Linked DNA regions of Homo sapiens: region 2 is linked to region 1. The links come from fine-mapping of genetic effects on gene expression. A gene starts in region 1. The other region holds a variant in brackets. All regions are shown on one strand. Distances are between the middles of the regions. Region 1 holds the start of RBM38 (RNA binding motif protein 38). Region 2 has its middle 51 kb from the start of RBM38-AS1.

What was found. PIP is the estimated chance that this variant, and not a neighbour inherited with it, causes the effect. A credible set is the group of variants that fine-mapping cannot tell apart.
Region 2: its variant is the best candidate, but not a certain one, in a credible set for the expression of RBM38 in pancreas (GTEx, PIP 0.90).

What each region holds. Positions count from the first base shown.
Region 1 is chr20:57,389,055-57,393,428 of GRCh38, forward strand. It overlaps RBM38 (RNA binding motif protein 38), which reads left to right and starts at 2,342. Exons shown (of 4, transcript NM_017495.6): 1 at 2,342-2,764; 2 at 3,600-3,723; 3 at 4,225-4,279. The coding sequence starts at 2,528. RBM38-AS1 (RBM38 antisense RNA 1) reads right to left here and starts at 4,002. Exons shown (of 2, transcript NR_149006.1): 1 at 3,225-4,002. RefSeq lists silencers at 35-414, 2,025-2,424, 2,775-2,964 and enhancers at 2,059-2,560, 2,561-3,060, 3,815-4,004.
Region 2 is chr20:57,441,708-57,446,081 of GRCh38, forward strand. No RefSeq gene overlaps it. Among named protein-coding and RNA genes, the nearest start is that of RBM38-AS1, 51 kb to the left of the region's middle. RefSeq lists enhancers at 1-2,530, 1-341. The variant C/T (reference allele first, on the strand shown) is at 2,399.

The DNA.
Region 1 (4,374 bases):
GACCTTGTCTCAAAAAAAAAAAAAAAAAAAGTGTGTGTTTGGGTGAATGACTGATTGTCAGGCAGAAGCTGGTGACCCGTGGAGACATGGGGCCGCCGGAGGGGGGGAGGGATTGGTGATCCAGATACCCAAGGGGGCCCGGGGGCGGGGGGCGAAGGAGTGCGACTGGACCCGCACCTGGGCAACCGCGTCTCCAGCCTCCACGGCCCTGTCCCGCCCCCTTCCGGGCAGGCAGAGGCCCCGGGGCTGCCCTGCCGCCTGGGCCCGGCCCCCGCGGCAGCAGCCGAGCGGCCGCACCCCTTTGTGGGGCTGTCGTGCCGGGAGGGGCGCGGGCGAGGCGGGCCCGGGCGGCGCTGGGACTTGTAGGCCGGGAGCCCGGGCGCCTCCGGGCTGAAGCCCGTGGCCACGCCACCGACGCGGCTCCAGCCTGCCCAGGCAACGCGACGGCTGGGGACAGCCTTGGAAAAACTGAAGGGGAAACCGAGGCCTGGTGAAGGGATCCAGCTGGCGCAAAAGCACGCGGCCGCGCAGTGGCCGCCTCCCCCGGCCTCTAGGGGGCAAGTGAAGGTCACACTTAAATGAAAGTTTTCAAAGTCGCTTCGAAGGGCCTCCGGCTGGGCCAGAGCTTTCCCCCACCCCACCTTGTTCCATCGTGGATACACTCAACAAACATATCCCAGAGCCCTCTCCTTGCCAGGCCCTCCAGCTTGGGCAAAACATCCCAGGTCCCTGTTCTCGCAGCGCCCAAATAGCAGGGGAGGGGCTCCAGGCAGGCGAACACACAGGGCCGGGGAGGTGGGAAACTCCGCGAAGGAAGGAGAGGAAACCACGCGGGATGAAGGGCAACGGGGGCCGCAAGCGGGGGCAGGAGCGCCAGGAACGAGGAACGAAGGGGGAAGGGAGGAAAGGACGCCCAGGCTTCCGGAAGACTCGGGGGTCCCATCCCCACTGTGCAGAGGGCTAGAGCGGGAGCTGGGGGAGGGAGAGGTCAGAGGTCAAGGCTGCCGCGTGGAGCGTGGGCCGTGGAGTGGGGGAGGGGGCGGGCAGACTCCTCCCCGCCGGCAGCCAGGGCAGAGGGCTGGAGGAAACGCGGAGAACTCCTCGGTGCTGGAGGAAACGAGGGGAACTCCTCGCCGGCCTTGCGGTCCCCCACAGCCCACGGAGTGCCACTCCCAGTCCCCACAGACCCCACCTGCGTCGCCCTGTGCTGAGAGGAGGCCGCAGGGCTGGGGCCGGGAGTGACCCCAATTAGAGCTGCTGTTTCCCAGCTGCATAGGTCCCAACCGCGGGGGCTGGAGATGAGGCGGGCTTGAGGCCCCTAGTCCCGGCTTCAGAGGTGGAGGGTGTGACCCGCAGGTCCGGGATCCCGGGGTCTGTGCAGTCACACGGCCCTTCCCTTCGCTCAGGAAAGCCCGGGGCTGAGTTTCATGCTCAACCGCTGCCAACTTGAAATTCCTAGCTTTTGAATAAGGGGCCCCGCGTTTGCATTTTGCACTGGGCCCCGAAAATTCTGTGGCTGGCCCTGCCTGGTGTGAAGCTCACAGAGCCCCACTATGCGCCGCCTTTCTATGGCTGGGGGCCGGATGAGGGACCCGGGTCTGCTCTTACTCGCCCCAAGGGTCCCTGACACCAGCCCAGAACGGGGTGGAGCTGGAAAGAGCCCACACCTGCTTCCTCTGCCCACCTCATCTCCCGCGGGGCCTCTGAGACCGCCCGGGACCCGCTTCTATCGCGGCACCGTGGTGTAGCTCCCTCCGGGGTCGTATGCTGTATGTTTACTAGCCGAATTCTCAGTCCTGGACGCTCCGTGGGGCCAGGGAATATGATCTGTGCTCCGCTGCAGCCTCGCGCCCAGAGTAAATATCGGTCGGATGAACTAATCTTACATATAAAACAGAAATCATTTCCCTTTTTTAATATGGCACGTGGCTCTTCCCTAAGTCGCCCTGGGTTAAATACCGACTCAATTAACAAGATGCTAAAAACCGTTTACGTTTTTTTACGTTTTTTACGTTTAATTCACCAGACGGTGCGCTCCACGAGGGAAGGGGCCTGGCCTCCCTAGTTCAGGGTTGTGCTTAGTGCCTGCAACCGGCCGGGCCCGCGGGGGCAGCCAGGAGAGAAAGGCGCGCCCAGCGCCCCCAGGCCCGGATCCGCCCTCAGCCCGCGTGCGCTCCCCTCCCCCCTCCCCCCAATCGCCGCGCGCCCGGGTGCGGCTGGGCGGGGTTAGAACTACGCTTCCCGGCGGTCCCCGCGCGCCCGGGGCGGGGCGGGGCCGGCTGGGGGCGGGGCTGAGCTGGCGGGGGCGGCAGGCTACAAAGCCCGGGGGCGGTGCCGGGGCGCAGAGTCCCCGCAGCGCCGGTCGGGAGCGCAGCGCGGCGCACGTCGGCGCGCACGGCGGGACGGGCGCCGGAGTGGTCGGGCCTGGCGGCTGGACGGGCGCCCCTCGCTGCCCCGCGCGCTCCCCGCCGCCCCCCATGAGCGCAGCCCCGCGCGGCCCGGGTCCGTAGGCGGCGGGGCGCCCCCCATGCTGCTGCAGCCCGCGCCGTGCGCCCCGAGCGCGGGCTTCCCGCGGCCCCTGGCCGCCCCCGGCGCCATGCACGGCTCGCAGAAGGACACCACGTTCACCAAGATCTTCGTGGGCGGCCTGCCGTACCACACTACCGACGCCTCGCTCAGGAAGTACTTCGAGGGCTTCGGCGACATCGAGGAGGCCGTGGTCATCACCGACCGCCAGACGGGCAAGTCCCGCGGCTACGGCTTCGTAAGTGGCCCCCGCGCCCGGGCCCGCACCCCGCCGCACACCTTATCGCGGCCCGGGCGCCGAGTCCACTCCGGGGCACACGCCCAGACGGCCCGCTGCCGCCCCCGCCCCAGGCGCCTCCAGCCGGCGCCCGCACCTGCCGCCTCTCCCGGGCGCGCTCCTGCCGGTCCCGCCCCCACCACCCCAGGCCCCGGCCCCCACCCCCACCCCCACCCCCACCCCCACCCCCGGTTTAAAAGGAAGAGCCGCTGTGTTCAATTAGGACTCCTAAGTTGGTGGGGAGGTTTTGGAGCCAGAGGGCACTCGGGATTTCCTGGAGCAGCGGGGGGTGAGGAGCAATGGCTCCACCCCGGGGTGTTAGGAGCTCTTCGGCCTCCCCCATATTTTTAACAGCCCTCTCAGCCGCCCCAAATAAACATCAGCTTAAGTAAAAACGTCTTGAAGACACTTTCCTGCTTACCTTCCAAGCATAGCGTCGCAAACTCCTTCTCAGAGGAAAGTCTCGGCCCTCACTGGTGGGCAAGTCCAGGCGGCCCCCCAAGCTCCCTTCGGGGTTCATTTTTGCCCTATCCCCGCAGGGGATTATTTTTGTCCTTGAAGGCCACATTTCCCAGGCCTTGAACTTTGACGGGAGGAGCTGGAATCCAGGAGGCATCTTTGTGGGAGAGCCCCAGGTAGGGTTCAGAGGAGCTTTGGCTCAAGGACCCTGGGTCACAGGCACCCTCAGAGGAAGGGAAGAGAGGGGTGGCAGCATCCGGTGCCAGGGCGGAGCCGTCTGCCCCTTTCGCCCCTGGTTCCCCCCACGGCAGCCCCTGATGTGTCTCTGCTCCACCAGGTGACCATGGCCGACCGGGCGGCAGCTGAGAGGGCTTGCAAAGACCCGAACCCCATCATCGACGGCCGCAAGGCCAACGTGAACCTGGCATATCTGGGCGCCAAGCCGCGGAGCCTCCAGACGGGTGAGAGCTTGTGTTTTCCTGCCTGGCTCTTCTCGGTTTCTATATTGGGTGTCGGTATCTGTCGGGTGGAAAGAGGCCCCCCCTCCTCGCCCCAGCAGTGGCAGTCGGCTATCATGTGCCTGCAGAGCCGGCACAGGGCAGCCATCCCCCCCTCGAGGATCTAGACCCCTTCTCACAGCGTGTGGCCCAAAGAAGGGGGCGGGGGGCAGGGAGGGTACTGCACCCCAGTTGCCAGCTGTCCTCGCAGGAGGGAGGAAGTGGCCATGGGGCCTGGAGGTTGGGAGTGCCGACACCAGTGGCTGCTGACACCTGCGTCACTCACTGCCACACTTCAGCGGTGTGCCTTGGGGTTCACAAGGGGGAGGCCTGGGAGGGGAGAGGAAGCGGATGATCCCTTTTGACTAGAGGTGTGTGGCTTGTGGGATTCTGCCACCCTGTGTGCAGCCCTTGAGACGTGGCTCGTGCAGCAAGGCCAAGTCCCTGATTGTTCTCTCGTTTTAGGCTTTGCCATTGGGGTGCAGCAGCTGCACCCCACCTTGATCCAGCGGACTTACGGGTGAGTGGACATGGCTGGCTTGGGGTGGGTAGTCCGTGGAGATGAAGTGGAGAGGGCCTTGGGCTTCCTGGGTCTGGAAGGCTGGGGAAATGACA
Region 2 (4,374 bases), 53 kb after region 1:
GGCCAAAGGGCAAGGCTGGCCAAGCGGTTTGGGAAGCGGGCCCGGGCTCAGGAGCACACTGAGGGCCCTTGGGCAGTGACCTGCCCTCCAACTGTGGCTATGATGAGGAAGGCGCATGCGTGCTGGTTGAGGAGGGAAGACCCCCATGACCATGAGCCAGTGTGGGCAGAGGAATGGGCAGGGGGAGGGGCAGGGGGCAGGTCCTCCCTTAGGAGCCACTACGGGGCATGAGGCTCCTGTGTCTGCTCGCCTTGGTTCCAGCCAGCAGCTTTGGCTCTTGGAGCCTCAGTTTTGCTATCCTTAAAATGGGTGTGATACAAACGCTATCTCAGGGTGGCAGCGGGAGTTCAAGGGGACAAGATGCACACCTCTCAGGGCCCTGCAGGGAGTTCCTGGAAGATTGACAGCAGGGCGAGGGAGGGATCTCTCCTTTCCTCGGAGATGGGGGAGGCAAGGGCTCTCTTTCTGTCCCTGACACCCCCTCCTCAGCTCCTCCTGCCCTCCCTGCTGTCTCATTATCTTAGGTGTGATGGGGGCATGGTGAGGCCTCCCAGCCACTCCCAGTGCTGGAAGTGCAGGCGTGGGGTGACCAGCTATTGCACATGTGACTGCATGGCTGTGTGTGTACGCATGTCCCTCCCAACCCCTATTAGCACAACCATGGGAACGTGACCGTGCAGCCCAACAGCCAGGGCGCGGGATACTCGAGAGGGTGGCCCCGGCCTGGGGATGTCTGTGGTTCTGCTGCTGCTCATTTCTGAAGCCCCTTCATGAGTTCTGGGACTCCTGGGGGGATGGGGCCCACTTATGAGTCCCTCAGAGGCATTCAGTGCAAAGTAAAAATGTGGCCCCCCCTCCAAACGTTCAAAAACGACGAAGACTTTTAAGACGACAACAGCAGAGCATTAAACCAACAGGCGGCCCTTCTGAGTGTGAGGGTCCCTCTGCGACTGCACAGGTCACACCCCATGCAGCCGGCCCTGTCCCCTCTGCCCCTCTGCAGCTCAGGTGGGCGGGGCCTGACCACTCCAGCCTGGTCACTCCAGCCTGGCCTTAGACTCTGAGGTGAGTGGTGCCAGGACCTGCCGGTCAGCCTGGATTCATCATAGCCTCTGTTGTCCAGTAGGCTTGGCAAGAAGGGTCTGTGGAAGTTTATAAAAGTGACACCCCCCAGCCCCCAACCTGGGGAGCAGCCAGGAGCCCTATGTCAGAATGTGCGGCCCCTAATGAAAGTGCTCTTCCAGCCACTCTATTTAAGCCAGGTGAGTTTGTTCTCAGGGACTGGAGGCCGGCAAGGTAATGCAGCTGTTTTTAGCGTTTTAGCAGGAGGCAGGTGCTGGCCAGGACGCCTGTGACGCTGTGGGTGACGATGGCCATGACCCGGACACATACAGGTTGGGCAACCTGGGCAGAGCTGGTGTGCCTGGAGGTGGGGCGGGGGGGGTGCCTGGAAGACTGGTGTGGCCTGGATGTCCTGAGAGCGCCAGAACCTCTCCTTGGGGCTCCCTGGGTGGCTACCACCTTTGACTCTTGCCCTAGGGGCACACACTGCCACCTTTCCAGAAAGTTCTCTGGGATCTACAGAAACTGACCACCCATCCAGGTGCTTGAACGTGTCAACTGGTAACTTGCAGCTGTTCTGTTGGAACCTCTGAGATTCCAAGCAGAATTGCTCAGAACCTTCCGGATGCCCCACATGACATCCGCTCCCTCAGGGATAGACAGGGTTCGGCTGCTCATCGGGGTCTCCCAGAGCCTGGAACAGCGCTGTCCTAGAAGCCGTGAACAACCATCCTGCAAAGCTGGAGAAGCAGGGCATTTCCCCGCTGACACGCTCAGGACCAGGAGCTGGTGTGCGTCAAAGTCAGCACCAAGGCCGGTCCATGGCCTGTGAAATACTCGTCCCTCAAGATTGCATTTCAATGGAAAGACTGGCATTTCCCATTCATTCACCTATTTTTTGATGGAGGAAAAAGGTCTTTCTGAGTGGGGTGGGGTGCTCTGCTGCTTGGGGTGGTCCCCTCATCTTCCTTGCATAACCCACATCTCCAGTGTATCTTGTGCCTTTGCAGTTTCTCTTTCTTTGAAATGGAAGAGAGAAAGAATATGCTCCCAGAGACGGTAACTGGAGAGCTTCGGAGCAGACTTTTATACTCTAAAGTAAACTTGTCCTTTTCATTAATTAACTAACAGAGATTTATTTGGTGTGGACCTCACGCCACAGCCTGTGCTGGATGCTGAGAACAGAGGAAAAATGAGCCCAGGGAAATTGTGCCTGAGTGCAGCTAGGTCAGTTTTCTGTTTTACAAATGCAGGAACCAAGGCTCAGAGAGGGTGTGTGAATCACCTAAGGCCACACAGCGCCTGTGTGACAGGCTTTGGCCTGTAAGGGGAAAGC[C/T]GGCTAGAAGAGATGAGAAAATGGGGTGTCATTCACCAGCAAAACTGGGTTCAAATCCGCCTCTGGGACCTTGGGTAGGACCGGCCTGCCAAACACAAATGCATATCTGATTGTTCCCCTACCCCATTTTGTCTGTGTTATCTTATGTAAAATGCAGATTCCCCCATCCTTCCTTTATCCCTTTTGTTTATGTGGGTCCCCTCAAGCTTTAAGGGCTGTGCTCTGCTATAAGCTAGCCAACTTCTTGGAGCCTCAGTTTCTCATTTGTCAATGGGAACAATTACTGCTGGTTCCTGCGGTCACTCAGCAAATATTTGTTAAGCACCTACTAGGTGCCATGCAGCATTGTAGGCACTGGGATATAGCTGTGAGCCAAACACCCAGCACAGGGCTGATGTGGGAGCTGATGGGGTGGTGCAGCGGGCCTGGTCTGGGCTCCCTCAGCGAGCCAGGCCCAGGGCGCCCCAGGGCAACAGGGCTGCACTGCAGGTAGACTCAGCTTGGCAGATCCCTGGCCCTGGGGGCCGTCACATGGGGGCCAGGCCAGGGGCGTGTGGGAGCGGAAAGAGGATGGAGGGCAGGAAGGAGGGAGAAAGAGGGAGAAGAGAGGAGGGCACTCTCCTCATCCCCATCCTTCTCCAAAGAAGAAATGACGGCATCGTGCTCTCACCGACTCATCGTCCTAGTAGGTCCTTAGGACACCCAGCAAGCCAGACCTCCGTGTGACAGATGAGGAAACTGAGGCTCAAGGGTGACGTCACTTGCCTAGGATCACAGAATTCCCGAGGGGGATCTAGGCAGTCTCCCTCCACAGCCCAGTCTCTTCCCTTCGGACGCAATAAAAAAAGAGGGAAGGGGAGAGAATGATGGAAGGGGGGAGGAGGGAGGGGCAGCAGGAGGTGTGGGAAGCAGGAGGGGGAAGAGGCCCCTGGGAGGCTTTCTGGGCCCTGCCTTATTTTCCCCTCCCTCCTCCTCCTCCTCCTCTTCCTCCTCCTCCTCCTCCTCCTTCTCCTCCTCCTCCTTCTTTGAGACAGAGTCTCGCTCTGTTGCCCAGGCTGGAGTGCAGTGGCACGATCTCGGCTCACTGCAACCTCTGCCTCCCGGGTTCAAGCAATTCTCCTGCCTCAGCCTCCTGAGTAGCTGGGACTACTCAGCTCATTTTCGTAGTTTCAGTAGAGATGGGGTTTCACCATGTCGACCAGGCTGGTCTCGAACTCCATCCCCGCTTCTCCGGGGGCTTTTGCTCCTAGGGACTCGGGCTCAGCTGAGCTCCTGTGGCAAGTCCTGTGGGACTGGCATGGAAGACTCCTGGGCATGTGGTGGCTATGACTCTTCCCTGATGATGGTGGCCGCACCTTGGGATTGGCTTCTCCTCTCCGAGTCAGGGACCTGGCATTTTTGGCAGCCCTTGGGGGCTATTTTTAAACCTCACAGCTGGTTTTCATCATGGCTGCTGATAGGTACGTGTAGAAACATTGGCTCTTGCCAGCATTCTGAACAAACCTTGAAAACGAGCAGGGTTGGAGCGGATCAAAGTAGGGGCTCAGGGAAACCTGAAGTGGCAGCCAGTGCTTTGTCCCCACCCAGACCCTTGTAAGGGTAGGAGATGAAAGAGCACGGCTCAGGGGATGAAAGGAGGTGCCAGGGCAGGAGAGAGCCAGGGATTAGGCACGTTCCCTAGAAGATGTAGCTGAATGTTGGGACACAAGAGAAGGGCTCTTTAGCAGCTAGAGCCCTGTTATCCTCATTTTCCTTCTGGGAGGCAGCAAAATACAGAGGTTGAGAGCATGGATTCTGGAGTCCCACAAACCCGACTCCTGCCTTGAGTCCTGACTCAGCCTTTAACAGTTGTGTGACTGTGAGTGTATCAGTTAGCTACTGCTATGTAACAAATCGTCCCAAAACCTAGTTGCTTAAAACATGATTCTATGAGTTGACAATTTAGCCTGAACCATCAGTTGGATGGTTCTGGTGTG